Homo sapiens: one gene and its partners. The protein of the gene in region 1 purifies or fractionates together with the protein of each later gene. This does not show direct contact. Each region holds a gene or a part of one and is shown in the gene's direction. Other genes may lie near its edges. The genes, in order: EIF3F, CSTPP1, DDX3X, EIF4G1, EIF4B, JOSD1 and PRRC2B.

The links.
Region 2: the proteins of EIF3F (region 1) and CSTPP1 purify together in Homo sapiens (affinity purification with mass spectrometry; 3 studies listed by BioGRID and IntAct, with this or other methods). This does not show direct contact.
Region 3: the proteins of EIF3F (region 1) and DDX3X purify together in Homo sapiens (affinity purification with mass spectrometry; 3 studies listed by BioGRID and IntAct, with this or other methods). This does not show direct contact.
Region 4: the proteins of EIF3F (region 1) and EIF4G1 purify together in Homo sapiens (affinity purification with mass spectrometry; 3 studies listed by BioGRID, with this or other methods). This does not show direct contact.
Region 5: the proteins of EIF3F (region 1) and EIF4B purify together in Homo sapiens (affinity purification with mass spectrometry; 3 studies listed by BioGRID). This does not show direct contact.
Region 6: the proteins of EIF3F (region 1) and JOSD1 purify together in Homo sapiens (affinity purification with mass spectrometry; 3 studies listed by BioGRID and IntAct, with this or other methods). This does not show direct contact.
Region 7: the proteins of EIF3F (region 1) and PRRC2B purify together in Homo sapiens (affinity purification with mass spectrometry; 5 studies listed by BioGRID and IntAct, with this or other methods). This does not show direct contact.

The regions. Positions count from the first base shown.
Region 1 is NC_000011.10:7,999,845-8,002,352, forward strand, and holds the end of EIF3F (eukaryotic translation initiation factor 3 subunit F), read left to right. Parts: 3' UTR 1-2,008; downstream 2,009-2,508. UniProt on the Homo sapiens protein: Component of the eukaryotic translation initiation factor 3 (eIF-3) complex, which is required for several steps in the initiation of protein synthesis.
Region 2 is NC_000011.10:46,985,261-46,988,760, forward strand, and holds part of CSTPP1 (centriolar satellite-associated tubulin polyglutamylase complex regulator 1), read left to right. Parts: intron 1-1,947; coding exon 1,948-2,050; intron 2,051-3,500. UniProt on the Homo sapiens protein: Regulator of the tubulin polyglutamylase complex (TPGC) that controls cytoskeletal organization, nuclear shape, and cilium disassembly by balancing microtubule and actin assembly.
Region 3 is NC_000023.11:41,347,468-41,350,774, forward strand, and holds the end of DDX3X (ATP-dependent RNA helicase DDX3X), read left to right. Parts: intron 1-172; coding exon 173-252; 3' UTR 253-2,807; downstream 2,808-3,307. UniProt on the Homo sapiens protein: Multifunctional ATP-dependent RNA helicase. The ATPase activity can be stimulated by various ribo-and deoxynucleic acids indicative for a relaxed substrate specificity.
Region 4 is NC_000003.12:184,317,606-184,321,105, forward strand, and holds part of EIF4G1 (eukaryotic translation initiation factor 4 gamma 1), read left to right. Parts: intron 1-111; coding exon 112-211; intron 212-2,083; coding exon 2,084-2,196; intron 2,197-2,657; exon of another isoform or gene 2,658-3,024; coding exon 3,025-3,117; intron 3,118-3,321; coding exon 3,322-3,388; intron 3,389-3,500.
Region 5 is NC_000012.12:53,016,456-53,019,955, forward strand, and holds part of EIF4B (eukaryotic translation initiation factor 4B), read left to right. Parts: intron 1-17; coding exon 18-155; intron 156-2,342; coding exon 2,343-2,551; intron 2,552-3,454; coding exon 3,455-3,500. UniProt on the Homo sapiens protein: Required for the binding of mRNA to ribosomes. Functions in close association with EIF4-F and EIF4-A. Binds near the 5'-terminal cap of mRNA in presence of EIF-4F and ATP.
Region 6 is NC_000022.11:38,685,043-38,687,993, reverse strand, and holds the end of JOSD1 (josephin-1), read left to right. Parts: coding exon 1-92; 3' UTR 93-2,451; downstream 2,452-2,951.
Region 7 is NC_000009.12:131,474,086-131,477,585, forward strand, and holds part of PRRC2B (protein PRRC2B), read left to right. Parts: intron 1-368; coding exon 369-2,450; intron 2,451-3,500.

The DNA.
Region 1 (2,508 bases):
TACTTCCACGTTCACTGAAGCATTGTTCACAATCGCCAAGACATCAACCTAAGTGTCCATCAACAGAAGATAGATAGGGCTGAGCGCGGTGGCCCACGCCTGTAATCCCAGCACTTTGGGAGGCCAAGGCAGGTGGATCATTTGAGGTCAGAAGTTCTTGACCAGCCTGGCCAACATGATGAAACCCCGTCTCTACAAAAGATACAAAAATTAGCCAGGCATCTTGGAGGGCGCCTGTAATCCCACCTACTCGGGCTGAAGTGAGAATGGCTTGAACCCAGGAAGTGGAGATTTCAGTGAGCTGAGATTCCGCCACTGCAGTCCAGCCTGAGCGACAAGAGTGAGAAGAGTGAGACTTCATCTCAAAAAAAAAAAAGGTACATCTACACAATGGAATATTATTAACCTTAAAAGAAGGAAATAACTGATTTACAACAACATGGATGGACCTGGAGGACACTATGCTAGTGAAATAAGCCATGATCTCACTTGGATATGGAATCACAAAATTGAACTCACAAGCAGAGTGTAGAAAGGTGGTTTCATGGACTGGAGGGAGGGGATAAATGGGGAGATGTTGGTCAAGGGTACAAAGTTTCAGTTAAACAGGAGTAGTACGTTCCGGAGACCTGTTGTGCAGCAGGGTGACTAGTTAATGTATACTTGAAAATTGCTAGGAGTAGATCTCACCAGGAGAAATGAATATGTGAGGTGATGGATGTAACTAGCTTGATTGTGGTAATCAATTTCGCAATGTGTACATATATCAAAACATCACATTGTACAAAATACATACAGTTTTTGTCAATTTAAAGATATCAGAATTCTAGAATATGATAAAGTTGTGTTTTCAAGCAAGTAAAGATAGATTACTTAAGAGCGAATGAGTGGTAATTTGGAAACAATGTTGGATTCCTACTTCGTTACCTGCACCAAAATAAGTTGCTCATGGAATAAAAACTTGTCTGAAAAAAAAACCATAAATATGAGGGAAAAAACACAGCAATGTGTTTTTAATGATTTATGAGTGAGGAAGAACTTTCTAAGAACTGAGAATCCAGGAGTTATTTTAAAAGACTGACAAATTTAGCAACATTTTTAAAATCTGAGTGTCAAATTACACACATACACAAATAGTCAATACAAATATAAAACTGGGAAAATATTTGCAGTTCATATCAAAAAAAGGGCTAATATTCTTGTCCCAGAATTCCTACAGTTTTTTAAGGCCAGTAATTTGATACATTAGTGTGTAAAGGATATGACCAGACAGCTCACACACAGACACACAAATGTGAAAAGATGCTTGATCTCACTGATAAAGCATAAATTAAAACGATGTCATTTTTAAAAATCAGATTCGCAAATTTTAAAAGTTGCTAACACTGGAATGGCCAGAGTAAGAGGAAACGTGACACAGGCACAGATTGCTGGTAGACATATAAGTTGGTACAGCCCTCTCTATGTAATTTTGTGTTTGTCAAAATTACAAATATGCATGCCCTTAACCCAGGAATTCCACTCCTCATTATATATCCTACAAATAAACTGGTCTCGTTATGACACAATGTAATGAATACATAGATAAGTACTGAAATACTTGGTTATCATAGCGTAAAGATGGTAATCAACCCAAATGACTATTACCAGAATAGAAATTAAACAAAGTATGATATATCCATAAAACACAATACTATGCAGCTGTTAAGCAGAATGAGACAGTCCTCTATATATCAATATGGATAAAGAGTAAGTGAAAAAAGCCAGGAGAGAATGTTGTCTATAATATGCTGTTGTTGTGTACGGGAAAATAAATAATATAAATACCTAGAATATTTGTGAAGGTACAGCCAAGAAACTACTATCACTGATTGTCTTAAGGTACTAGATGGGGCACAGGACAGGACGAAAGATTTACTTCTTATTGTTTCTTCTGTATAACTTTTGAATTTTATGCTGTTAATGTAATTTTTCAAAAAAATATATAAAAATATAAAAACATGAAAAACATGAAACAATACCTTATATTTTTACATATACTATAAAAAGTAGGAAATATTGGGAGGCCGAGGTGGGCAGATCACCTGAGGTCAGGAGTTTGAGACCAGCCTGACCAACATGGAGAAACCCCATCTCTACTAAAAATACAAAAATTAGCCAGGTGTGGTGGCGCATGCCTGTACTCTCAGCTACTTGGGAGGCTGAGGCAGGAGAATCGTTTGAACCCAGGAGGTGGAGGTTGCGGTGAGCCAAGATCACGCCACTGCACTCCAGCCTGGGCAACAAGGGCAAAACTCCGTCTCAAAAAAAAAGTAGGAAACATGCGAAAAATGATAAAATCAAATTTAAGATACTACTTCTGGAGAGTAAAAGAGGAAGAGAGGGAACAGTATTGGCAAGGGATGCAGACGTGGTTTCAATTATATCTGTAATGGCTTTCCTTTAAAAAATAAGATATGGCCAGGAGCAGTGGTGCACACCTGTAGTCCCAGAGACTGGGGAGGCTGA
Region 2 (3,500 bases), about 39 Mb from region 1:
AAGACTTTTGGGCTCAGGTTGGCAGGTAAACTTACTTGTTTTATGAGCTTCACTAGACTACCAGGACTTCAGAAATAGTTTTTTGAAATACCAATATTTATAAATTTTAGGTAATTCCATCATATTTTCCTGAGGAATGAAACTGTGAAAGAAGTAAATGTCTACTTTGGCAGCAACTTCATAGAATTGCTTTTTGGAAGGATATTCATCACTTTGGGGTTTTTTGTTCTCACTGCTCCAGATGAAAGTATTTTTCTGAATTTTTTATGGTAAATGTGGACACTGAATTGGAAGCTTCTATGTAAAGTTTGTCAGGAAACCTCTGTCATACCTAAGGATAAAATTCAGAGAAAGGGAAGAAGTATTTGAGTACCTGACATCTAAGAAGTTCTGGCCTATGTTGTTTACTGAGTAAACTCCCAATAATGCTTTGAGACAGGCTTTTAAGGAAACATGTTATCAATCACGTACTATGTACCAAACACATAGTGGTGTTTTACCTGTATTATCTTATTTATTTCTCATAACCCTATAATGTAAGTACCATTATTATCCCCATTTTACCATGAAGAATAGGCTTGAAGAATAATTTGTTTATGGTCACATAACTAGGAAGTGGCAGAGCTGAGAATGGAGCTCTCAACTCTCTGTAATCCAAAGCCCAGGTTCTTAACCAGTGATTCTTAAACTTAAGAGTACATAAGAAGCATCAGGAGTACTTGTTAAAAATTACTGGGCTGTAGTAAAAAATGTAAGGTCACTAAATCTGGGACAGTGCCAGACTATAAATCTGCGTTTTAAACGGCATCCCAGGGGATTCAGATCAAGAAATTGATTGACCATATTTTGAGAAACATAGTTAAATTATATTGCTTTTCACACTTGATAAAGAAGAAAACAGGTGTAGACTAAGTAACTATCCAAGATTAAGCTACCAAGACAGAGCCATGATTCAAACTCAGGTCTGTCTCACTCTAATACTCATACTTTTTATTATACGCCCATGATTAACTCACACATTTCCAAGTCACAACAAATGCAGAAAACATGACATCTAATAAACCAAGCCAGATAGATTTCATGGTCTTGTTATTTACCAAAGTTAATAACTTATATATACACCAGTACGAAAATTTTCATGGTCCTTAAACCTTTCCAGTGACTTTTTTTTTTTTTTTCTAATTTAAATTAACTGAGTTTTCTTTTTTTTCTGTTCTGAAATGAAGTCTGGCTCTGTCGCCCAGGCTGGAGTGCAATGGCATGATCTTGGCTCACTGCAACCTCCACCTCCCAGGTTCAAGCAATTCCCCTGCCGCAGCTTCCTGAGTAGCTGGGATTACTAGCTACTCAGGAAGTAGCCACTGCATCTGGCTAATTTTTGTATTATTGGTAGAGACAGGTTTTCACCATGTTGCCAAGCTGGTCTCGAACTCCTGACCTCAAGTGATCCACCCGCCTCAGCCTCCCAAAATGCTGGGATTACAGGCCTGAGCCACTGTGCCTGGCCAGAGTTTTCTTTACAATCATACCATCCATGCTTCAAGCATGGAATTACTAACTCCCTGGGATAAGTTTCTGATGCAGAAATGGAAAAGAATAGAAGGAGGTAGAAAGAAAAGAACTTCCAGGTGTATCTGCTGAATGGTGCTAAATCTCCTCTTCAACCCACCCTTGTGATTGAGATGAAGAATGAAGGGTTGATGCTAATACTAACAGCCAGTCAAATGGCAATTGGTCATGTTCACATCATCTCCCAATCTATCCTTTGAGACTATAGCTCAGTTAGGGTCAGCAAGTTTGCTTTGCCTATTCCAGTCCACTGATGAAGTGTCATCAGACAGAGCCAACACCTGGATTGCCTTACACATGACCTCCTACTAGGATTGGGATCATTCTTTTTAAAATCTTTCTCTCATTTTCTCTTTCTCTCTTGCTATTTGATTGCAGCTCAGCGACATGTCCTCACCTACATGGAGGATGCAGTGTGCCAGCTGCTAGAAAACAGGGAAGATATTAGCCAATATGGAATTGCCAGGTTCTTCACTGAATAGTAAGTACATGAATGTTGTACTAATACAGTGAACCCAGAGGAGGCGCTTGGAAGCAGGCAGGATACTTGAGGAACAGAGCAGGACAATGCTGATTAGGTAGTGGCAGTGAATGTTTAGTTTTGGTAGGTTGGTTGTGGGCCGCCCAAACATGTTTTGGAGCATGCCTTTGGTGCAGCTAGTTTGTCCAGTGATGTCTCATGAATAGTTTTGATTACAGTAGCTTAACAACTGCTTGTTTGATCTATTAGATCTATTTCTGTAGGTTTCTCTTTTAACTTTCTCCTTTATTCAAAATATTCACTTTGATTTCCTTTCGCTGATGTTCATCTAGCCTGTTTTTTTTCATGGCTGGCTTTTCTCATGGAATCTAGGCTAATGTTCCTCTGCAGTTTTCTTTCTACAGGATGCTGTGCCAATCACTTAATGATTTAAGTGTATTTCTAATCAGCAAAGTGAAGAGACAACCCACAGAATGGGAGAAAGTATTTGCAAACTACCCATCTGACAAGGGATTAATAACCAGAATATATAAGGAGCTCAAATATCTCTATAGGAAAACATCCAATAATCCCATCAAAAAATGGACAAAAGATGTGCATAGACACTTCTCAAAACAAGACATACAAATGGCAAACAGGCATAAGCAAAGGTGCTCAACATCATTGATCATCAGAGAAATGCAAATCAAAACTACAATGAGATAACATCTCACCCCAGTTACAATGGCTTGTATCCTAAAGACAGGCAATAACAAATGCTGGCGAGGATGTGGAGAAAGGGAACCCTTCTACACTGTTGATGGGGATGTAAATTAGTATAACCACTGTGGAGAACAGTTTGGAGGTTCCTCAAAAAACTAGGAATAGGGCTGCCATATGATCCAGCAATTCAACTGCTGGGTATATACCCAAAAGAAAGGAAATTAGTGTATCGAATAAATATCAGTACTCCTATGTTTGTTACAGCACTGTTTAGAGTACTAAGATTTGGAAGCAATCTAAGTGTCCATCAACAGATGAATGGGTAAAGAAAATGTGGTACATATACACAATGGAGTATTATTTGGCCCTAAGAAAGAATGAGATCCTGTCATTTGCAACAACATGAATGGAACTGAAGATCATTATGTTAAGTGAAATAAGCCAGGCACAGAAAGACAAACATTGGATGTTCTCACTTGTTTGTGGGATGTAAAAATCAAAACAATTAAACTCATGGACAAAGAGAATAGAAGGATGGTTACCAGAGATTGGGAAGGGTAGCAGGGGGCTGGGGGAAGAGGTGGGGATGGTTGATGGTTACAAAAAAGAAAAAAAAGAATGAAAAAGACCTGCTATTTGATAGCACAACAGGGTGACTCTAGTCAATGATAACTTAATTGTTCATTTTAAAATAACTCAAAGGGTACATTTAGATTGTTTGTAACACAAAGGAAAAATGCTTGATGGG
Region 3 (3,307 bases), on another chromosome or scaffold:
ACTTCATAGCTTTGGGAAGGGTTTTTTTCCTTTTAGTCATCTTTTTCAAAGCCTAATTAAACAATTTAAGTTCAGCACTATAGAAACTTGATGGCAAATTACGTAAGGGAAGGATTGTATTTAATGATGGATAACTTCATTAATTTCTCTCTCTTTTTAAATCTCTCATTAGGTGGCTATGGAGGCTTTTACAACAGTGATGGATATGGAGGAAATTATAACTCCCAGGGGGTTGACTGGTGGGGTAACTGAGCCTGCTTTGCAGTAGGTCACCCTGCCAAACAAGCTAATATGGAAACCACATGTAACTTAGCCAGACTATACCTTGTGTAGCTTCAAGAACTCGCAGTACATTACCAGCTGTGATTCTCCACTGAAATTTTTTTTTTAAGGGAGCTCAAGGTCACAAGAAGAAATGAAAGGAACAATCAGCAGCCCTGTTCAGAAGGTGGTTTGAAGACTTCATTGCTGTAGTTTGGATTAACTCCCCTCCCGCCTACCCCCATCCCAAACTGCATTTATAATTTTGTGACTGAGGATCATTTGTTTGTTAATGTACTGTGCCTTTAACTTTAGACAACTTTTTATTTTGATGTCCTGTTGGCTCAGTAATGCTCAAGATATCAATTGTTTTGACAAAATAAATTTACTGAACTTGGGCTAAAATCAAACCTTGGCACACAGGTGTGATACAACTTAACAGGAATCATCGATTCATCCATAAATAATATAAGGAAAAACTTATGCGGTAGCCTGCATTAGGGCTTTTTGATACTTGCAGATTGGGGGAAAACAACAAATGTCTTGAAGCATATTAATGGAATTAGTTTCTAATGTGGCAAACTGTATTAAGTTAAAGTTCTGATTTGCTCACTCTATCCTGGATAGGTATTTAGAACCTGATAGTCTTTAAGCCATTCCAGTCATGATGAGGTGATGTATGAATACATGCATACATTCAAAGCACTGTTTTCAAAGTTAATGCAAGTAAATACAGCAATTCCTCTTTCAACGTTTAGGCAGATCATTAATTATGAGCTAGCCAAATGTGGGCATACTATTACAGGGAAAGTTTAAAGGTCTGATAACTTGAAATAGGTTTTTAGGAGAATTCATCTACTTAGACTTTTTAAATGCCTGCCATAAATGAAATTGAAATGGTAGAATGGCTGACCACAGCAATGACCAGCCCTCATTAGGGCCCTGGATGATTTTTGGTCTAATAACGCATGCTAGTGTTGATGTTTTTTGGTCAAGAGGGTATGAACAGGAAGAATTAAATGCAGCAGGCTTTATTTTAAATGCCGATTCACATTACTCTGTTCAAGCTGCGTTGAGATGTTAAACTGGCTTACTATAGACTTCGTAAAAATGGCTCCAGAAGAGTAACAAACTGAAATCTTTGAGATCACACAGGTTGGAAATATGTACATAACTGCACAAGGTGTCAATTCTGCTCTACAGTGCAGTTTTAGTCAGTTTTAGTTGCATAGGTTTCCATTGTATTTATAGTCTGTTTATGCTAAATCTGGCCAAAGATGAGCATTGTCCACCACTAAAATGCCTCTGCCACTTTGAATTCTGTGCTAATTTTGTGGCCAGAATGCGGTGATCAAAACGCTCCATCTTTTTACAGTGGCATAGGAAGACGGCAAAAATTTCCTAAAGTGCAATAGATTTTCAAGTGTATTGTGCCTTGTTCTAAAACTTTTATTAAGTAGGTGCACTTGACAGTATTGAGGTCATTTGTTATGGTGCTATTTCAATTAGTCTAGGTTTAGGCCCTTGTACATTTTGCCCATAACTTTTTACAAAGTACTTCTTTTATTGCACATTCAGAGAATTTTATATATATGTCTTGTGTGCGTGTCCTTAAACTTCCAATCTTACTTTGTCTCTTGGAGATTGTTGAACGCAGCTTGTCTAGGAAGGGGATGGGACTAGATTCTAAAATTTATTTGGGACCATGGGAATGATAGTTGGGAAGAAAACTATTTGCACACGACAGATTTCTAGATACTTTTTGCTGCTAGTTTTATGTAATATTTATTGAACATTTTGACAAATATTTATTTTTGTAAGCCTAAAAGTGATTCTTTGAAAGTTTAAAGAAACTTGACCAAAAGACAGTACAAAAACACTGGCACTTGAATGTTGAATGTCACCGTATGCGTGAAATTATATATTTCGGGGTAGTGTGAGCTTTTAATGTTTAAGTCATATTAAACTCTTAAGTCAAATTAAGCAGACCCGGCGTTGGCAGTGTAGCCATAACTTTCTGATGTTAGTAAAAACAAAATTGGCGACTTGAAATTAAATCATGCCAAGGTTTTGATACACTTGTCTTAAGATATTAATGAAACACTTCAAAACACTGATGTGAAGTGTCCAGATTCTCAGATGTTTGTTGTGTGGATTTTGTTTAGTTGTGTGTTTTTTTTTTTTTTTCAGTGAATGTCTGGCACATTGCAATCCTCAAACATGTGGTTATCTTTGTTGTATTGGCATAATCAGTGACTTGTACATTCAGCAATAGCATTTGAGCAAGTTTTATCAGCAAGCAATATTTTCAGTTAATAAGGTTTCAAAAATCATGTAAGGATTTAAACTTGCTGAATGTAAAGATTGAACCTCAAGTCACTGTAGCTTTAGTAATTGCTTATTGTATTAGTTTAGATGCTAGCACTGCATGTGCTGTGCATATTCTGATTTTATTAAAATAAAAAGTTGAACTGCACAGTCTCCTTTGTTGTTGTCAATTGTGGTTTATTTTCAGAGGTGTAAATAAAGTGCTCTTGCCTGAAAAATTGTAAAATGTTATTTTTTGCTTGTCATCCAGTGCTATTTTTTGAGATGCCTCTTGGATACAGAATGACTCATACCATAAGTATTTGCAATGAAAGATGAAGATAGTATTAGTTTGAAATACAGTGAAACAGGATTTTTGTAATAGACGGAAATCTAAAAGGCCCTTACTGATAATACAGCATGTATTAGAAATTGGCTTATACTTTGAACAATTTGACATGGGTGGGAGTCTCTTTGTTCTTTGAAGTATCTATTATGAAGGATGGTTGAACAGTGGAAGAATGAGCAGGATAAAAGTCAAGTGTGTCAGTAGTCCAACAAGTGATGGTAAGTATATACTTAGGGAAGGAATCAAGACTATTTGGGCCAGGTGTGATGATTACATAGTCCTATAGTGCTAGTTTACTTGGAAGCTGAGGGGCAGGAAGATTGCTTGAGCCCACGAGTTCAAGTCCAGCCTGGGCAACGTATAGCAAGACCTTATCTCTGAAAACAGGTA
Region 4 (3,500 bases), on another chromosome or scaffold:
GTCATTGCCCAGAGTTGGCTTGTCTTGTCTTGACCTATGTTCTTTTTGGAGTCTGATATGGAACTCATAGCTCCCTCAACTCCTTCTCTCCCTCTCCCCCTTCCCCACCAGGGGCGTTCCACATACGTTGTCCCGACACAGCAGTACCCTGTGCAGCCAGGAGCCCCAGGCTTCTATCCAGGTGCAAGCCCTACAGAATTTGGGACCTACGGTAAGCAGGGGAGGGAGTCAGAGGTGAGAACAAGCCCAAGGGAGCATCTAAACTCATCTGCTGATTTCTAAAGCAGAAGACCCTTCCCAGGCTTGGCTTCTGGTCTAAAAATGATAAGGTTAATAGGTGGTAGGGATTGGTGCTTAATATTTAACTGGTGTTGATTGTGGGGAGAAAATTTGATTTTATTGCCAGGAGAGTTAAGAGTCTTTCCCACATCAGGGAATGTAGGATCAGGCACCAGCCTGAGAGCCTATTAGTAGGCTTTCCCTGTGACACTTCTTCCATGGTTGGGAGCCCATGTAATGCAAATTTGGGAGGTTTTTGTAGCTATTTTTTATTTATGTTCTAGGGAAGGATTAGTCTGTTCTTTATGGCAGTGGCTTCCAAGTTTTTTGATCACCTATCAGGAAAAGTTTTGAGTATGAATCTCTCATACATGTATGTTTTTGTTTATATGTATGCAAAATTTAAACAAATACACTTGTGCTTGTCAAAAACAAGTGGAATTTAGGGATGAAATTAAAGAATGTGCCCGGATCTTGCTTGTAATCCCAGCACTTTGGGAGTCAGGAGGACTGCTTAAGGCCAGGAGTTTGAGACCAGCCTGGGAAACTTAGTGAGACCCTGTCTCTATTTTAAAATTTGAGGGGGGCTGAGCACGGTGGCTCACGCCTGTAGTCCCAGCACTTTGGGAGGCCAAGACAGGCGGATCACTTGAGGTCAGGTGTTCGAGACCAGCCTGGCCAACATAGTGAAGCTCCGTCTCTACTAAATTTTATTGTTATTATTTTAATTTTCTTTTTGAGACGGAGTCTCGCTCTGTCACCCAGGCTGGAATGTAGTCGCACAGTCTTGGCTCTCTGCAGCCTCCGCCTCTTGGGTTCAAGTGATTCTCCTGCCTCAGCCTCCCGAGTAGCTGGGATTACAGGCGTGTGCCACCACACCCAGCTAATTTTTGTGTTTTTAGTAGAGATGGTGTTTCATCATGTTGACCAGGCTGGTCTCGAACTCCTGGCCTCAAGTGATCCACCTGCCTCAGCCTCCCAAAGTGCTGAGATTATAGGCGTGAGCCACCACGCCTGGCCCTGTCTCAACTAAAAATACAAAAATTAGGCCTGGTGATGCACTCTTGTAATCCCAGCTATTCGGGAGGCTGAGGCAGGAGGATCGCTTGAACCCGGGATGTGGAGATTGCAGTGAACCAAGATTGTGCCACTGTATTCCAGCCTGGGCAATAGAGTGAGACTCCATCTCAAAAAAAAAAAAAAATTAAGGGGAAAAAAGAACTCACCCACTTTGGAGATAGTTTGCTTTAAGGAATTAATTTTTCTTCATCTTGAGCCTAGTTCATAATGTTACTTTGTTTCTTTGCCCCTTTGTAAAGGGCTGGAGACAGGAACTAGACTCAAGTTAAATGGAACAGGGTTGGCAGATCTCTTTCTCTCATTACCAGCCAAAGACCTGGTTCTGTTTCAGGTTCAGAGTATGTGTGTACATGTTGATAGCGGGTGGGGTACACACACGAGAGTAACTTGTACGGTGGAAGGACAGACATAAGTCCTCCTGGTCACTGGTGTGTGGTAGGAAAGAGTGCCTGCCTACGAGGGGTGTGTGTGTGTGTGTGTGTGTGTGTGTGTGTGTGTGTGTTTGTGTGTGTGTGTGTGTTAGGAATTCTTGTAAACGCAGTTCAGACTGGTTCCCCAGCTTTGACAGACACCTAATTCCCTGGGGGAGGAGGGCAGGGCAGGGCAAGGCAAGGGGCCGGCTGTGGGTGGTGAGAGGTTTTGGGGTGGGAGGTGTCAGGCAGGCATTAGTATATGGTTGGGCCCTGACGCTACCACCATTCTTCTCCGTCCCCCCTCCCCCAAGCTGGCGCCTACTATCCAGCCCAAGGGGTGCAGCAGTTTCCCACTGGCGTGGCCCCCACCCCAGTTTTGATGAACCAGCCACCCCAGATTGCTCCCAAGAGGGAGCGTAAGACGGTGAGTAGCAGTGAGGGGCTCCGGGACATCTGGGAAGGGGAGAATCAAGGTCAGGTGCTGCTGGGACATTGTGCCGGAAAGAGCAGTGACTTGAGGAGGAAGGAGCTGAGAGTGGGCAGAGAATGGTGTCTGTGGAGGGCTCAGGTTCTTTGTAAGATGCTAAGATTTCAGCATAGAAGCAGGTCATGGGAAGACTGAAGTGCCTAGCGAGGAAGTTCCTGCGAGACCTGGGTGCTGGGGGGTTGGAAGAACTATGCTTGGTTTTGGGTTTCTAGTGGCTTGCCTTGGAAATGGTTTGTTTTCTGTGGCCCCAGCCCCCATTCCCCCCTGCCCCCCCAGTCCTGGAAGCTCTCAAGGCCTCCGCCTCTGCTCAGTCCTCAAGCCCTGGGCGTGGTGCCCAGAATAGGGTGCCAGAGCTGGGGAAGCCGCTGAGTCACCCTGGCTCCACCTACTGGATCTGGGCCCTGCCCCCAGAGATCAGGCACACTAGCCACAAGTGAGCCGATTGGGTTCTAGATGGGGGTCCTGGGCCCCAGGGTGTGCAGCCACTGACTTGGGGACTGCTGGTGGGGTAGGGATGAGGGAGGGAGGGGCATTGTGATGTACAGGGCTGCTCTGTGAGATCAAGGGTCTCTTAAGGGTGGGAGCTGGGGCAGGGACTACGAGAGCAGCCAGATGGGCTGAAAGTGGAACTCAAGGGGTTTCTGGCACCTACCTACCTGCTTCCCGCTGGGGGGTGGGGAGTTGGCCCAGAGTCTTAAGATTGGGGCAGGGTGGAGAGGTGGGCTCTTCCTGCTTCCCACTCATCTTATAGCTTTCTTTCCCCAGATCCGAATTCGAGATCCAAACCAAGGAGGAAAGGATATCACAGAGGAGATCATGTCTGGGGCCCGCACTGCCTCCACACCCACCCCTCCCCAGGTACTGTCTGCTTTTCGAGTGATACCCTGGCTGGGATGTCTGTTCTGCCCTGGACTCCCAAGTCCCTGGATCTTTTCTTTCAACTAAGGGATTTATTTCCCTGCTTTCCTGGATTTCTAGGCAGAGCTAAAGTAGAAATGGCTCTAGTAAAGAAGGGTTGTGGGACTCTTCAGTGCAAACTTGGTAACCCTTTGTGTCCTGCAGACGGGAGGCGGTCTGGAGCCTCAAGCTAATGGGGAGACGCCCCAGGTTGCTGTCATTGTCCGGCCAGGTAAGTAAGCCGGTGGGACGGAGCTTTTATGGGGAAAGGGAATGTTAACAGTTAAATGCTGAGGTGGTGGAGTGACTTGAACTGGGTACCAGAGAATGATGACTTAGATTTC
Region 5 (3,500 bases), on another chromosome or scaffold:
CTTGCCTTTTAAAACAGCAAAAAAGAAGAATAAGAAGGGGAAGACTATCTCCCTAACAGACTTTCTGGCTGAGGATGGGGGTACTGGTGGAGGAAGCACCTATGTTTCCAAACCAGTCAGCTGGGCTGATGAAACGGATGACCTGGAAGGAGATGGTAACTTTTCTTTTGTCATCGTGTTTGGAATGTTTATTATTTTCTAGACAAAACCTATTACATAATAATTCACATCGTTTGTAATCTGAAAAGAACTTACTCATTTTTTAGCACCTGAAATCTTACATATTTTATAGAATCTAAGGTTTAATCTGAGGTTTGGGCTGTCAGACTTTGCAGTGAAGACTGAAGTGGTCATTTAAGAGAGCTTTGCTAGTTCTTGTTCTTGCATTAACAGACTTCTTAAGTTACTATTCTTTTGGGCCTCATTTTCTTCATTTTAAAAGTAAGAACTAGATCATCTTTTAAAATTCCTTTTAGGTCTAAAATTCTATGGGGTCCTCATAAAGTGATGTTTCAGGCTGCTCGCGATGGCTTACACCTGTAATCCCAGCACTTTGGGAGGCCGAGGTGGGCAGATCACATGAGATGAGAAGTTCAAGACCAGCCTGGCCAACATGGTGAAAACCCATCTCTACTAAAAATACAAAAATTAGCTGGGCGTGGTGGCATGTGCCTGTAATTTCAGCTACTCGGGAGGCTGGGGCAGGAGAATTGCTTGAACCTGGGAGGCGGAGGGTGCAGTGAGCTGAGATCATGCCACTGCACTCCAGCGTGGGAGACAGAGCGAGACTCCATCTCAAAAAAAAAAAAAAAGTGATGTTTCAGTGTAATCTGTAAGCTATGTTTACTCAGAGCCAAGGAATAATTAGTTCCAGGTGTCATTAGTATAAAATCAGAGTGTCCTTGGGTAAACGAAAATGGTCTGAGGAAAAGGAGTGAGAACAGTAATTATGGTGGGAAAATAAAGAAGAGTCAATTGGACAAGTTCTGTGCCTTCAGGGAGTCGCCAGGAATAATAAGGAGCTATGTTTTATAATGACCGGGTATGACATAAATCTCATTACCATTGTTTTTTTCCTGAAAATCGTTTATTGCATGCTGAAAGAATATTTTTTCCTATGACCTGTTTTCATAATTCCTAAAAACAGGAAATTTTTTTTGAGACAGAGTCTCTATTGCCCAGGCTGGGGTGCAAGTGGCGCACTCTCTGCTCACTGCAACATCTGCTCCCGGGGTTCAAGCGATTCTCCTGCCTCAGCCGCCTGAGTAGTTGGGATTACAGGTGCCCGCCACCGCGCCCAGCAAATTTTGTATTTTTAGTAGAATCAGGGTTTTACCATTTTGGCCAGGCTGGTCTTGAACTCCTGACCTCATGACCCACCTGCCTCAGCCTCCCAAAGTGCTGGGATTACAGGCATGAGCCACTGCACCCGGCCAAAACAGGAAATTTTATATAGGTCGTACTTCCCATAGGTGTTGGTATCTGAAGTACAAATTCATGGACAGTGCTGTAGGAAAAGATTTTTGTTGTGATATTTTTGTTTGTTTGTTTTCAGATGGAGTCTCACTCTGTCGCCCAGGTTGTAGTGCAGTGGCACAATATCTTGGCCCACTGCAACTGCCGCCTCCCGGTTCAATAGATTGTCCTGTCTCAGCCTCCCAAGTAGATGGGATTACTGGCACATGCCACCACACCTGGCTAATTTTTGTATTTTTAGTAGAGACAGGGTTTCACCATAATGGTCAGGCTGGTCTCAAACCTGACCTCAGGTGATCACCCACCTTGGCCTCCCGAAGTGTTGGGATTATAGGTGTGAGCCACCGAGCCAGGCCTGTTGTTGTTTTTAAGGGAGGATAGACCATGCAGAAAAATACTCAACTTCAAACTCACCACTAGGAATACAAGAGTTGTCAGTAGTGGTTAAATATACCTGGAGTAAGAGGGACCCAGGTTTGAATCCTAGCTTTACCGTCTGTGACCTTGGGCAAATTACTGTCTGAAATCTGAGTTTGCTTTTCTGTAGAATGGGGGACAACCTCACAGGACTGTTAAAAAGATAAGATGGGATATAATGAATATAAAGTAGCTGGCACACAGTAATATTCCATAAAGAGTTGTATTTATGGAATAATATTTCTTTGCTTACATAAAGATTAAGGTGTCATAATTAATCTCAGAAGCTTCTCTTCGTAAAGTGCCCTTATTACTGAACCCCCACTTTTTTTGGTCTGGTTTTCTTGTATAGCATGTTTAATATTTGGCAATTAACATGGGTCCTCTTGTTCTATGACAGTAGTGAGAGAAGTTTCTTCTAATTTCTTACATTCATTCCTCTATCCTAGTTTCGACCACTTGGCACAGTAACGATGACGATGTGTATAGGGCGCCTCCAATTGACCGTTCCATCCTTCCCACTGCTCCACGGGCTGCTCGGGAACCCAATATCGACCGGAGCCGTCTTCCCAAATCGCCACCCTACACTGCTTTTCTAGGAAACCTACCCTATGATGTTACAGAAGAGTCAATTAAGGAATTCTTTCGAGGATTAAATGTAAGTGTAAAAGTTGTAATAATTAACTAGATATTGAGGATAATGTCTAAAAAAGACTAATTGTGGAATGGGCAGTTGCTGTTGAAAAAACAACTAGAAATATAATTTAAGGCCGGGAATGGTGGCTCACGCCTGTAATCCCAGCACTCTGGGAGTCTGAGGCGGGTGGATCATTTGAGGTCAGGAATTCGAGTCCAGCCTGGCTAACGTGGTGAGACCCTGTCTCTACTAAGAATACAAAAATTAGCTGGGCGTGGTGGTACACGTCTGTAATCCCAGCTACTTGGGAGGCTGAGGTAGGAGAATTGCTTGAACCTGGAAGACGGAGGTTGTGGTGAGCCGAGATTGCGCCATTGCACTCCAGCCTGGGCAACAAGAGTGAAACACCATCTCAAAGAAAAAAAATAAAATCAAAATTATATATATATATATTTTTTTTTTTTCTTTTTTTTTTTTTTTTTTTTTTTTGAGACAGAGTCTCATTCTGTCATCCAGGCTGGAGTACAGTGGATTACATGCCCAGCTAATTTTTTGTATTTAGTAGAGATAGGGTTGCACTATGTTGGTCAGGCTGGTCTTGAACTCCTGACCTCAGAGGATCCACCTGCTTCGGCCTCCCAAAGTGCTGGGACTACAGGCATGAGCCACTGCACCTGGCCTGAATTAATCTTTTTTTTTTTTTTTTTAGAGTTAAATTCATACAGTTCAAAATTCAGAAGGTATAATAGGGCATTTAGTAAAGTTTCTACTATCCCTCTGCATCAGTTTTCCTCCTGAGACAACCATGTTCTTGTGTATTCAGAAAAATTCATGCACATACAGTAATGCTTTTGTAGTCCTCTCAAAAAATGACAAATGAAGAAGAATGCTGGGAAACTTTGTTGTTGATTCTTATTCCTTCAGATCAGTGCAGTGCGTTTACCACGTGAACCCAGCAATCCAGAGAGGT
Region 6 (2,951 bases), on another chromosome or scaffold:
TAAAACATCATTTGCGAGGAAAGAACTGTGAACTCCTGCTGGTGGTACCAGAAGAGGTAGAGGCTCATCAGAGTTGGAGGACCGATGTGTAACAGTTCTGCCCAACCTCCCTCTCGCCTCAGCCCCTTCAGTCCTCTGTGACGTGCTGTGGCCTCTACAGTGGGTCTGCCCTTGCCACTTCCCCAAACATCTCATCAAGTTTTTCCCCTTCAGATCTGACAGTGCAATAGGACAGACGTGTGGACTGTTATAAGAACTACTCAGTGTTTTGTTCCTGGGCAAGGAAGGTAGGAGTTCTGTGCACTTAAGGCCAGTGGTCACAAACCCTTGTTTTATTTAAGAGACAGAGGAGAAAGTGGAGCGGGGAGGGAATCCTAGCTTATTTTCCCTTTTCTATGAGGACTTGACACAGGTTCTGCTGAGTTGTCACTGCTGCTCCAGACTCACCTAGAGATGCTGCCTCCACTTTCCATCCTGTCTGGGTCTGAAAACAGTGGGTCTGCAGATAGTGCCCACAAACCCCATGTGACTGGTTTGAAGGACCCAGAGCATAAAGGTCTCTCAGGAAACCATGTCCAAAACCCTAGCAGCGGTACAGCATGCTGTCTCCAACCCTTATCCCCAGGTTTAAGGGTGGTTTATGGCCATACGTGGAGGTTTTTTGTTGTTGTTTTTGAGACTGAGTTTCACTCTTGTTGCCCAGGCTGGAGTGCAATGGCACCATCTCGGCTCACTGCAACCTCCACCTCCTGGTTCAAGCGATTCTCAGGCCTCAGCTTCCCAAGTAGTTGGGATTACAGGCGCCTGCCACCACACCTGGCTAATTTTGTATTTTTAGTAGAGATGGGGTTTCTCCATGTTGGTCAGGCTGGTCTCAAACTCCCGACCTCAAGTGATCTGCCCGCCTTGGCCTCCCAAAGTGCTGGGATTACAGGCGTGAGCCACCGCACCCGGCAGAGTTTTATAATGAAAAATTAACTAATATTCTAGTATGAAGTGAGGAGGATACTGAACAGGATGTGGCTAAAGCCAACCTGGGACAGCCATGGGGTGGCTTGGTTTCTTCACTCCAGTGTTGTCCCTACCATTTCGCAGCATTGATTTAGGAGGCTCTGGGACAAAAGAGAAGCCAAAGAGCAGTTTTCCCAGTTCACTCACTCTGGCAAAATCAGGAAAAAAAAGTCTGCTTTTGACATCAAATTCCACTAATTTGGGGCAGCGTTGGGTGAGGAAAGTATTGTGAAGACAGGCTTCTTGGAGTAGGGGCAGCCACAATTCAGTAGACACTCTAGGCTCGGAGGCTGCCACTGTAGTTGCCAAGCTCAGGTTGGGTGGTTCTGTGCTGTATGGATGGAATAGGACCTGGGCTGGTCATCTTCATGTCGTTTCCTCTCTGTATCAATGGAAGTTCAACCCGCCCCTACCTCTTCAGATAGTTGTAGGCCACTTTTCTCTTGTAACTTTGGAAAACAAAAGAGGAGAAATAAGTATCATACCATATGCGTGTCTCCAAAGTGGATGTGGTTGCCTCAAGGCAGGTGGCAGGCAGGGGTGACCTGCTGGCCCTCAGATCAATGGTCGTGGCAGGTCTGAGAGCTGTCCCACTGGCCAGACTTCTCTCCAGCAGCAAAGCCAGCCTGGGGCTTGCATGTTGATCCTGAGCAAGCTTAACGGGGTGAAGCTGGGCTTTCTCCCCCCTGTGACTGGAGTGCATGTTGACACCAGCACTTTTTCTGCACATGTATCTTCAATCCAACAAGGCCGTTTTTTTAATGCTGAGTAACAGGCCACCAAGCGGCTACTGCGTTATATCTTCTCAGCAACTGGCCGCAGTCTCTTCTGCACCATTTTCTACACCAGACCTGCTTGGCACCACAGGGAGCTCTTTTCCTGCCCTGCACAATGACATTCCAACCACCACCAGCCAGACATTACAGCCAACCTTGCTGATTGTCACAAGCAGGACCTTGGGGCCACTGGCACTGTCAGATAGTAAGCCATTTCTTGGGTAGAGGAGGAAACTCCTCTCCACAAATCCACTTGGGCCTGTGCAAATGGCACTTGAAAGAGTCCCCATGCACTTGGAGTCCATGAGCCAATGGGATATGCAAAGACGCTTAAACATTTCAGGGCTGGTTTCTCTGTTCATATCCAATTCTGGTGCTTAGGAACAGGGACCCATGCTGATGCCCAAGGGCAAAAAGCCCCACTTCCTTTAAGGAAGTGAACAGGCCTGACCCTGATGCCCAATAACGGGCAACCCTAGGCTTTTTGTTTTTCTTGCTTTTATTCCTTTTTGTTGTTGGCCTTGTGCTGCGTTTGTTTACAAAAGATGTATTTTGTTTAACCAAATATTAAAAATGGAAAACTCCATATATGTCTCCTTGTCTGCCTGAATTCTATAATTGTGTAAAGAAAAATAAACTTTAGTATGACGCTGTTTTAAAAGGAGTTCATTGCCAGCGTAAGTCATCTTTTAGAGACATATCATTCTTTGATTAACTCTTTCACCTGAGAAATCCAGACAAAATAGTCACTGAAATGGGATTTGGTTCAAAAGATGTCTCTAAGACATTTTTCAGTCTATTTTAATTTATAAAAACTAATCTTGACAATTTGAAGAATCCACCTAAGTACAAGTTTGTACCACACTGGTGACTAGTGTTTTTCCCTAGTTAACAAGTGAAAGATCATGTATACCCAGCGGGCCTGGGCCCAGCCCCACCATCCCGAGCGCACAGCAGCAGTGTTCTGTAGCTGGACTGCCTGGATTTGAATCCAGGTCTAGCACTTAACTCTGCAGCCTTGAGCAATTACCTTTCTGTGGCTGTTTCCTCTTCTGTAAAATGGGAACAGTACCACCTAGATTGTAGTGTTGGTTGATCTGATAAACACACAAAAGGCTTACTCTGGCTGGGCGTGGTGGGTGACGCCTATAATCCCAGCACTTT
Region 7 (3,500 bases), on another chromosome or scaffold:
TCTTCACGGCCTCCCAGGCTCCAGCTTGCTCTTGCTCTTTGACCCGGAGGATTGCCTGGCTCCTCTGTCTCCAGGGGGCACACCGTACCCAGCCTGCGGCCACGACAGTCTTCACTCTCAAGGACTCCAGGGGCCACCGACCAATTCATGGCCTGGCATTTCTGAGACGTGTTTAAAGATAGAACAAATGTTGATGCTTATGTTTTTTTTTGGTTGTTGTTTTTTGTTTTGTTTTTCTAGCTTTCTTTTTAAAAAGTGTTTTAGTTTTTGTTTTTGTTTTTTCTTTTTAAAACTAAGCTCTGTGTTCAGCATGGAAACCAGGAACCAGGCTCCAATCGCATTGACTGATTTTTCTGGTTCCTTTTCAGGAATGAAAGCTCTTTCTCTGCCTCACTCGGAAGGGCAGGGGGCGTAAGTGCTCAGCGCGATCTCTTTGAGGAGAGAGGGGAGGAGTACTTGAGTGCTTTTGACAAGAAGGCCCAAGCAGACTTTGACAGCTGTATCTCTTCTCAAAGAATAGGCCAGGAGCTTTTGTTTCCACCCCAAGAAAATGTTCAGGATGCAGGTGCTCCTGGGGGTCACACCCAAAACCTCAGGTGTTCCCCATTGGAGCCTGACTTTGTCCCAGATGAGAAAAAGCCAGAGTGTGGCAGTTGGGATGTTAGCCACCAGCCAGAGACCGCTGACACAGCCCATGGTGTTGAGCGGGAGACACCCCGGGAGGGGACGGCCTTTAACATCTCCTCCTGGGACAAGAACGGGAGCCCCAACAAACAGCCATCCTCGGAGCCTGAATGGACTCCCGAGCCCCGGAGCTCCAGCAGCCAGCACCCGGAGCAGACGGGCAGGACCCGGAGGTCGGGACCCATCAAGAAACCAGTCCTGAAAGCCCTCAAGGTGGAAGACAAGGAGAAGGAGCTTGAGAAGATTAAGCAGGAGCTAGGGGAGGAGAGTACCCGGCTGGCCAAGGAGAAGGAGCAGAGCCCCACGGCAGAAAAGGATGAGGACGAAGAGAACGATGCCTCTCTGGCCAACTCCTCCACCACCACTTTGGAGGACAAAGGCCCTGGCCATGCCACTTTTGGCCGCGAGGCCACCAAATTTGAAGAGGAGGAGAAACCTGACAAGGCCTGGGAAGCCAGACCCCCACGAGAGTCCAGCGATGTTCCCCCCATGAAGAGAAATAACTGGATCTTTATTGATGAGGAGCAAGCCTTTGGGGTCAGAGGACAGGCCCGGGGCCGGGGCCGTGGTTTCAGAGAGTTCACTTTTCGTGGTCGGCCTGCTGGCGGAAATGGGAGCGGCCTCTGTGGTGGGGGGGTCCTGGGGGCCCGCAGCATCTACTGCAGCAGTCAGCGCAGCGGCCGTGGCCGGGGCCTGCGAGAGTTTGCGCGGCCAGAGGACTGCCCCAGAGCCAAGCCCCGACGGAGAGTTGCCAGTGAGACCCATAGCGAGGGCTCAGAGTATGAAGAACTTCCCAAGCGCCGCCGGCAGAGGGGCTCCGAGAACGGGAATGAAGGCTCGCTCCTGGAGAGGGAGGAGAGCACCTTGAAGAAGGGCGACTGCAGAGATTCTTGGCGGTCCAACAAGGGGTGCTCTGAGGACCACAGCGGTCTAGATGCCAAGAGCCGAGGCCCTCGGGCCTTTGGGCGAGCCCTCCCTCCCCGGCTGAGCAATTGCGGGTATGGACGGAGAACCTTCGTCTCCAAAGAGTCACCCCACTGGCAGAGCAAAAGTCCAGGCAGCTCTTGGCAGGAATATGGCCCTTCCGACACATGCGGATCCCGGCGACCTACAGACAGAGACTATGTCCCAGATTCCTACAGACACCCTGACGCATTTGGTGGCCGGGGCTTTGAGGACAGCCGCGCGGAGGACAAGAGATCCTTCTTCCAAGATGAACACGTGGCAGATTCTGAAAATGCAGAGAACCGGCCCTTCAGGAGAAGGCGCCCCCCACGCCAAGATAAGCCCCCTCGATTCCGGCGCCTCCGGCAAGAGCGGGAGTCCCTGGGCCTGTGGGGACCCGAGGAGGAGCCCCACCTGCTGGCAGGTCAGTGGCCAGGCAGGCCCAAACTGTGTTCTGGGGACAAGAGTGGCACTGTGGGCCGCAGGTCCCCTGAGCTCTCCTACCAGAACTCCTCCGATCACGCCAATGAGGAGTGGGAGACGGCCTCCGAAAGCAGCGACTTCAGCGAGCGGCGGGAGCGGCGGGAAGGCCCTGGGTCCGAGCCCGACTCCCAGGTGGATGGTGGCCTGTCGGGGGCTAGTTTGGGTGAGAAGAAGGAGCTGGCCAAGAGGAGCTTCTCCAGTCAGAGACCCGTGGTTGACAGACAGAGCCGAAAGCTGGAGCCGGGAGGGTTTGGGGAGAAGCCCGTTAGGCCAGGTGGTGGTGACACCTCCCCTCGCTATGAGAGCCAACAGAATGGGACGCCTTTGAAAGTGAAAAGGTAAAACCAGACACCATCTGGGCCCTTTTTGTTGTTGTGTTCTGTTCTCAGCAGCACTGAGTTCACGCATGCATGCCGATGCCGCCGTGTGTCGGGGCTGGGGGCCTGCCCCCAGGCCGTCTGTGCGCGTCTCCATTGCCTGCCCCCACATTGCCTGTCTGCTTCTCGTGGTGGTGTTATTGTGGCTAGAGCTCCCACCCCCACCCCCACCCCAGTGGTGCTCTTGAGGCCACTGTCCAGCACCTGACCTGAGAGTCCAGTCATGTGTCCCTGGAGCCCCGCCGAGGGGCCGCTGCAGCGAGGAACGTTGCCTGTGCACAGTGCCAGGTGCCGGTCAGTCCACCAGAGTCCTCTGCTCCGGAGTTGCTGCCAGGCGGCGTCCTAGGGGGCATCGCTGGCCTCGTGGCTGCATGGAAGTGGCTCTTCCTAGATGGTTCTGCTTCTCCACTGTGAGGAGACGTGGCCCCACGGTGGGGTTGCCACCTCAGCATGGCAGGAGCCCAGCAAACGCAGAGGGGAGCAGGCTGCACATGGTCTGGCGAGCACCTCTTCCACAGCCAGAGGCATTCGGGTGATGACCTCTGCTCAGGGACCAGGAGAGGGTCCCCTGCACAGTCTGGGTTGACTGACTGCACTTGGCTTGTGCCTCGGACAGGGAGGTGCAGGGGCTGCTGAGGCCTTCCCTGTCCTCAGCATACTGAGGAAGATGGCTTCACACCTCCACTCTCCTTAGAATTCAAGGCAGAGAAACTCCCAGAGAAGGAGCCACAGGGAACACCGACTCTTTCAGGTGGCATCTAATCCAGCTTTCCAGGCGCCAGAGGCTGACCCTTGGCTTCACCTCAGTTTTCTGCCCCAAGGGCCCTCCGGCAGGGCAGTCCTGGAGAGGAGCAGAAATGCTGGCGTCTCCATTCTGAGCATATTCCCCTTGTCTCTCTCCCCCCTACACTCTGAACATAGCATGTGGGAGAGCCCTGGGGAGCCACTTTCCCCAGGAGCAGGCAGAGCCGGTGGGGGCAGCCTTACACGTATGTTTGCACACGGACATGG